Linked DNA regions of Homo sapiens. The protein of the gene in region 1 purifies or fractionates together with the protein of each later gene. This does not show direct contact. Each region holds a gene or a part of one and is shown in the gene's direction. Other genes may lie near its edges. The genes, in order: DNAAF11 and PHLPP2.

The links.
Region 2: the proteins of DNAAF11 (region 1) and PHLPP2 purify together in Homo sapiens (affinity purification with mass spectrometry; 2 studies listed by BioGRID and IntAct, with this or other methods). This does not show direct contact.

What each region holds. Positions count from the first base shown.
Region 1 is NC_000008.11:132,612,679-132,616,596, reverse strand, and holds part of DNAAF11 (dynein axonemal assembly factor 11), read left to right. Parts: intron 1-1,499; coding exon 1,500-1,559; intron 1,560-3,420; exon of another isoform or gene 3,421-3,572; intron 3,573-3,918. UniProt on the Homo sapiens protein: Involved in dynein arm assembly, is important for expression and transporting outer dynein arm (ODA) proteins from the cytoplasm to the cilia. Acts as a crucial component in the formation and motility of spermatozoal flagella.
Region 2 is NC_000016.10:71,718,079-71,721,996, reverse strand, and holds part of PHLPP2 (PH domain leucine-rich repeat-containing protein phosphatase 2), read left to right. Parts: intron 1-3,918. UniProt on the Homo sapiens protein: Protein phosphatase involved in regulation of Akt and PKC signaling.

The sequences.
Region 1 (3,918 bases):
CCTGTGTTCTCCATCTCAGTAACACACATTCACCCCTTGGCTAAGACCAGAAACCTTGGATTCTCCCTTAATTCTTCTCTCCCTCATTTTATCAGTGCGTCCTATGAACTCTTCCTTCGATATTATCAGAATCCAGCCACATCTCACTGACCCCACCACCACCACTAGTGGACACTAACTCTTGCTTGGACAGTTGCAATTGCTTATTAAGCAGTCTCCATGGTTTATCTGTTGGCCTCCTACATTCTGTTCTACTCAGCTAAATAAAGAAGAAAAAAGGGAAGAAAGGATACACGCTCCTTTTCTTAAGGGACATTCTTAGAAAGTGCCATACAACGACTGTCCCTCACATGACCTCACCCACCTGCAAGGGAGGCCAGAGAATGCAACCTTTATTGTACATAGCCATGCCCCTAGTTAAAACCATGGTTCCTGTCACTAGGAATAAAGGGGAAGCAGATAGCAACTAAATAGCAATCTCTGCCATAGGAAAATTCTCTGAAATTACTTTACAAGTAATAAGCAATCGAGGCAGAGCAGGAGCATATAAAAAGGCTCCTGAGATGAGGTTCTACAAATGCATGGGTCATTTGAGACACTGAAGAAGTCCCACAGGCCTGACTATTGAAAGCAATGAGACAGTGCCTGCCACAAGCAGAAATGGGGCGAACAGCCAAATCTATCGCTAACTTCACATTTTCCTAAACAGTTTAGCTTATGTTCTTTAATATTGTTGAGTTGTATGTTTTATAGAGTAATACAGTAACTGAAATGTTCAAAAGAAAATTGACCAGGCAATTCTGATAGTATGTTGTTCAGTGTGGAAGCTAGACCTAGGACTCAACCTCGGGGTACAGTTGAAAGATGGTGGAGCTTTGAAATCCTGCCTAGCCAGGCTCGTGCAGAGAAAGTGTAAAGGCATTTATTATAATTCAGCTATGCCAACCTCTTTGAACCTCTGTTTCTTCATCTATAAAACAGAGGTAATAGATAATGAGCAGTGTCTCAGCCTTTTTCAGGGCAATGGAAAGGTCAGCGATGAAAGGAGAAGAAAAAAGATAGCAAGAAAAAAGAAGGAAGACAGGACTCTAAAACTTAAGGAATAGAATGCAGGATAAAGGGGAGGCAAAAGCAACCTTTAGTTCTCCATAAATAATTCCAATGTTTTAGTTTGCTTCTGGCAAACTCATATGAGATGGAAAAGAAAACTTTAGCCACCAGATGTCTCTATCTCTGCACTAAAGCTAATTTTTTGTGTGTAATTTACCTTAAGATTCTCACATTTAAACACTGTAAACACAAATAATTTATTAATATGTTGTAGGTTTTGCTGAAATGTTAAAATTACCGTTGATATTTGATTGTTCAACCACTAAAATAAGTTGTCTTTGGATATTATTATAGAATTATTATCTAATCTGCTTATGAATTTATGATGGGGTTTTCTATACAGTATCCTAAAGACATCTCTTTTTTCCCACCAAATGTGTTATTCTTAGAATTGACTTCTCTTTGAAAGATAACGAAAAGCAGATCATCCTGGACCTTGCTGTCTATAGGTAAAGACATTTTCTACGTATTTATTTATGACATTTCTGTCTGTTTTCATTCTCAGTAGTAATTTTTTAGTTTGAAAAAATTGAAATGGAATTGACTTAGACCTATAGTTAAATGAAGCTTATTTGTTAAGACAGAGAAGTTACTATAATTTTTAAAAGCATGAAAATGAAAGGAAAGGTAAATAAAGCCACAATTTCATGGATATGAACTCAGGAATATCTAAGGCAGAGTTTAAATAATTCTCAGACCTGTGCTGTTTTCTGATGCTGATACTACAAGGACCCCACTCTGTCTTTGCTGGCATAGTCCTCTGTTTTTGTCTAAAATGCCTTCCTATAGTAGTAGGTATCAGGTGATCGGCTCCCCTCCCTCAGTCCCATCTCAGAGGCCTGGGGGAACACCTAGCAGCCCCTGTCACCAGTGGACCCTTCTTCCCTGCTGCCCTCTCACATCCTGCCTGTTTTCTCACCCATGGGTAGGAGTGGCACAGACCTCCTGCCTGCCCTCATCACCACACCCAAACTATTGTCCTTTTCTCCTCCCTAAAGCTCCATGGCTTTGACACTCAAACCTTCAGCCTGTATCCCCTTCTTCTCTTCTTTGTGGAAGCATCTAAAGGCAGCAGGTCACTCTGCCTCATTCCCTGAAGATTTTAGGCCCTGGTTCACTGTGCCGATACATCCTTCTGATGACCTCAGTGTCCCCTGGCACCATCTCAGAGGCTGCTTGCCTGTGCTTCCCTCTGCCTGTATCACCCTCGGTGTCCTTGTGGCTTGCTGCCTCGTGTCCTTCAGGCCTCTGCTCAGATGTCACCTCATTAGAGGGGCCTCTCTGCCCCACCATCTGACATAAAGCAGTACCTACCCCTGCCCAGCACTTCCTTCCACTCTTTCTACTTTTTGACTTCCTGCTGACAAAGTGTAAATTTACTTGTATTCTTAAAAGTTTGTGGTCAGAGCAGGAAGCTTGTTTTGTTTGTTCTTTCCTCTCTACATCTCCACACCTAAAACAATACCTGGCACCTGTTAGGTGCTCAATAAACACAAGAATGAATGAATGAATGAATGAACAAATACTGATGATGGGAGTATGACATTGACATGCATGAATGAATGGATGAATGTTTACATGCATGAATTATAATAAATGCCTTTCTCTTTTTAATGGCTTTTGATGTGCCCCATTTTATTTAATCTCTCAGTAACCCTGGGAGGTTGGAGGGATTATTACCCAAGAGGGGGTAACTTTTCCAAGAGTGAGTCTTGTCAAAGTGAACAGGGACCGAAGGAGCCAGAACATCAGCCCTCAGGACTTCAACCAACTTTGCTGTTTTGATTGTGGTAAAATACACATAACTTAAAATCGACCATTTCAACCATTTCAAAATGGACAACACCATGGCATTTAATAAATTCACAATATTGTACAACCATTACCATTGTCTAGTTCCAGAAAATGTTTATCACCCCAGAAGGAAACCCCATGGTCCTTAAGCAGTCACTGCCCATTCTCTGTCTTCATGGCAACCACTAATCTGTTTTCTGTCTCTATAGATTTGCCTATTTGGGATATTTCATATTAATAGAATCATACAACATGTGGCCTTTGTGTCTGGCTTCTTTCACTTACCATAATGTCTTCAAGCCTCATCCATGTTGTTGCACGTGTCAGAATTTCCTTCCTTTTTATGGCCAAATACTATTCCATTGCATAGATGTACCACATTTTGTTTATCCGTTCACCAGATGGTAGGCATTTGGGTTGTTTCCACCTTGGCTCTTGTGTACCAGGGCTAGCCTTAGTGTGGTCCCTTCCTCTCCACACCAAGCTGTCTCAGATCAGCTGTGTGCCTCTCCACAGAATTCCTGTCAATTCTTCTGCCTGCTTGCTGCCAGGTTATCTGCCTTTACAAAGATCCCAGCTCTTCTCCAGCTAGCTTCATATCCTCTGCTCCTCCAGCTTCCCAAGCTGCCGTTTCTACTGTTTTTCAGACAAATCACTGTTTCATCCTTGTAAGTCCTTTCCATTTTTAGGCCCTATGTCTGGTGTTTAATGAATGTATAACCCTTTCTTTTTCAGCTCTGTTGGCTGCTTCCTGTTCAGTCCTCAAATGGAAACATTCCTCATTCCCATGCATGTGCATTTTAAGGGGTGGTAATATTTCTCCAGTCTATGTAGTAAAACTCTTTCATTCCCATGATTCTGTCTAAATGAATTATGCTATAATTCCTGGTTATCTTTATGGGCACATAGGTGTCTACTTGAAAGTTAAATTCATTCGTTCACGCCTGCTTCCTGCCTTTATTCAACAAGCATCTATAGAATACCTACTATGTGCCAGGCATGGGGAGACTGTAA
Region 2 (3,918 bases), on another chromosome or scaffold:
TTTTATACCTAATACCAAATCATGAACATTATTGTCAGATAATACAGATATTCTTCAAAAGGCTAATATAACTAAGCCAGTCTAACTTAGCCAGACTAGATCCAGTTCCATCTATCCTGGGATACTGGAAAATTTCCTTCAAAATGTGCCCCCAGATTTATTTAGCGAATTGCTGGACCATAGGTTTGTAAATTTTCCAGGTGTTTCCTACAATTTGGGGTTTATGGTTTTTTTTTAGTAATGATTAACTTTTTTACTCAGCTTATAGAAGATAGGAAGTTACAGCTAATGTCGGTGTGTGTCATGAGATTCATTTTTTTTTTTTCAAGAACAGTTTTGGGTGTTTAGCAAAGTATGTATAAACAATTAATGCCAAAAAAAATTTAAAAAGATTTTTTTTTAGAGACATAGCTTCATTGTGTAGCCCACGCTGGAGTGCAGTGGTGTGATCATAGCTCACTGCAGGTTCAAACTCCTGAGCTCAAGTACCTCAGCCTCTCAAGTAGCTAGGACTATAGGCACATGCCTGGCTAATTTTTATTTTTATTTTTGTAGAGATGGGGTCTTGCTATGTTGATCTCAAACTCCTGGCCTCAAGTGATCCTCTTAACCTTGGGCTCCGAAAGCACTGGAATTACAGGCATGAGCCACTGCACCCAGCCCAAAACGTTATTATTGTTATTATTTTTTTGAGGCAGAGCCTCTCTCTTGCCCAGGCTAGAATGCAGTGGCGCGATCATGGCTCAAGTGATCCTCCTGCCTTAGCTTCCTGAGTAGCTGGGATCATAGGCACGTTTTTTTTTTTGTTTGTTTGTTTTGTTTTTTTAGTAGAGATGAGGTCTTACCTTGTTGCCTAGGCTGGCCTTCAACTCCTGGGCTTAAAGGCTGTCCCTCCTCGGCATCCCAAAGTGCTGGGATTACAGGCATGAGCCACCGCACCCAGCCCCAAAACATTTTTAAAGCGCTGACATATTCTTTCTCTATCTCATCCCATCCCTCCCCACCGCTTTCACAATATTTAATAACGTGTGTATTCCCAGATATGAGTCTATATTGTTTTAAAGTTTTGAATGCAGAAACATCTTCTACCTAAGAGTATTTCACATTGTTTTTTTTTTTTTCGTCTTTTGTTTTTTTTTCCGAGGTGGAGTTTCGCTCTTGTTGCCCATGCTGGAGTGCAATGGCACGATCTTGGCTCACCGCCTCCCGGGTTCAAGCGATTCTCCTGCCTCAGCCTCTCGTGTAGCTGGGATTACAGGCATGTGCCACTACGCCTGGCTAATTTTGTATTTTTAGTAGAGACAGGGTTTCTCTATGTTGGTCAGGCTGGTGTTGAAGTCCTGGCCTCAGGTGATCCGCCTGCCTCAGCCTGCCAAAGTGCTGGGATTACAGGCATGAGCCACCGCACCCGGCCGTATTTCACATTCTTGCAGAACTAACTGAATATGGAGAGTTACTTTACCAGACCCTGTTTATACCATGTATATCTTATTATTGTATGTGAGTGTGTAATAGTATATCACCTTTGAACTGATCATTGCCCTCATGGAACACTTTTAGAGTTAAAAGTATAAAACTGGGCTGGGCACAGTGGCTAACTACTATAATCCCAACACTTTGGGAGGCCGAGGCGGGTGGATCATTTGAGGCCAAGAGTTCAAGACCAGCCTGGCCAACATAGTGAAACCCCGTCTCTGCTAAAAATATTTTTAAAAATTAGCTGGGCGTGGCCAGGCGCGGTGGCTCACGCCTGTAATCCCAGCACTTTGGGAGGCCGAGGCTGGTGGATCACGAGGTCAGGAGATCGAGACCATCCTGGCTAACACAGTGAAACCCCGTCTCTACTAAAAATACAAAAAATTAGCCAGGCGAGGTGGTGGGCGCCTGTAGTCCCAGCTACTCGGGAGGCTGAGGCAGGAGAATGGCATGAACCCCGGGGGGCGGAGCCTGCAGTGAGCCGAGATTGTGCCACTGCACTGCAGCCTGGACAACAGCGACACTCCGTCTCAAAAAAAAAAAAAAAAAAAAAAAATTAGCTGGGCATGGTGTTGTGCACCTGTAATCCCAGCTACTCAGGAGCCTGAGGCAGGAAAATCGCTTGAACCCGGGCGGTGGAGGTTGCGGTGAGCCGAGATCGTGCCACGGCACTCCAGCCTGGGCAACAGAGGGAGATGCTGTCTCCAAAAAAACAAACAAACAAAAGTGTAAAATTGAAGCAGTGGGTATTTAATTCATGGCTTACCCTCAAGACTTTTGCCTTCTAGAAAGATTTTTTTTTTTTTTAAAGACAGAGTCTCCTTGTGTCACCCAGGCCCATAGCTTATAGAAGATACGAAGTTACAACTAATGTCGGTGTGTGTCATGAGATTCTTTTTTTTTTTTCAAGAATAGTTTTGGGTGTTGAGCAAAGTATGTATAAACAATTAATGCCAAAAAAATTAAAAAAGATACTTTTTAGAGAGATAGCCTCATTGTGTAGCCCACGCTGGAGTACAGTGGCGTGATCTCCGCTCACTGCAGTCTCCACCTACTGTGTTCAAGCGATTCTCATGCCTCAGCCTCCAGGGTAGCTGGGATTACAGGCATGCGTGCCACCACCCCCGGGTAATTCTTCTGTATTTTTAATAGAGACGGGGTTTTGCTACGTTGGCCAGGCTGGTCTCGAGCTCCTGACCTCAGGTGATCCTGCCCGCCTCAGCCTCCCAAAGTGCTGGGATTACAGGCATGAGCCACTGCGCCCGGCTAGAAAGATCTTTAAATCTAAAATACGCTCTTTGTATACTTGTTTGATGTAAGAGGTAATTGTCATTGTGTTCCCTTTCAAATAAATTTGTGATAACAATTCTATAAGAGTAAGGGGAAAATAATTTTCTCAACCTAGCAATTCCAGTAGAATGGTGATTCTAAAAGTTGAAAGCACCTCAGAGGACCGTGTCATCTGCAGTCCTGGCTCCTAGGAAGGTTTTTCCAGCAGTTAACTGATGTGTTAAGCAGTGGAGCAAGACATTCTTGAGAAGAAGGAAGCACTAGGCAATTCAGCAGTGGCTAATAACAGCTAAACAGTCCATCTAGATTGTTGCTGTAAGCCTTTGCTTTGCTTAATATCCAGGCCTTTTAAGTGCCCATCGGTCAGGTTTAAGAGAATGATATATACTGAAGTTGTAACTTAGCAGTTTATCTTCTTAGGGCGGAATGTATCATGTAGACAGGAGATAGATCCTTTGAGGTAAATGATGACCAACAGCGTGTATATTTTGTTGTTGTTGTTTTAATCTTTATTTTATTTTAATTTTTTTTGAGACGCGGTTTCACTATGTTGCCCAGGCTGGTCTTGAACCCCTGACCTCAAGTGATCCTCCCTCCTTGGCCTCCTGAAGTGCTGGGATTACAGGCATGTGTTTTGTTTTTTTTTTTTTTGAGATAGAGTCTTGCACTGTCACCCAGGCTGGATTGCAGTGGCGCAATCTCGGCTCACTGTGGCCTCCGCCTCCCAGGTTCAAGTGATTTCCTTGCCTCAGCCTCCCAAGTATTTGGGATTTCAGGCGTGCACCACCACGCCCAGCTAATGTTTTTGTATTTTTAGTAGAGACGGGGTTTCACTATGTTGGCCAGGCTGGTCTCGAACTCCTGACCTTGTGATCCGCCTGCCTTGGCCTCCCAAAGTGCTGGGATTACAGGTGTGAGCCACTGCGCCCGACCGCATATATGTTTTGATAATGTAAAGTTCCTTAAGGAATTTATAATCTAAGGTAAATATATATGCACTAAAAATGACTGTTAAAAATCCTCACAGAAGAAAAATCAGGCCTGGTGTGGTGGCTCATGCTTGTAATCCCAGCACTTTGGAAGGCCCAAGCAGGAGGATTGCTTGAGTCCAGAAATTCAAGACCAGCCTGGGCAACATAGCAAGACTCCATC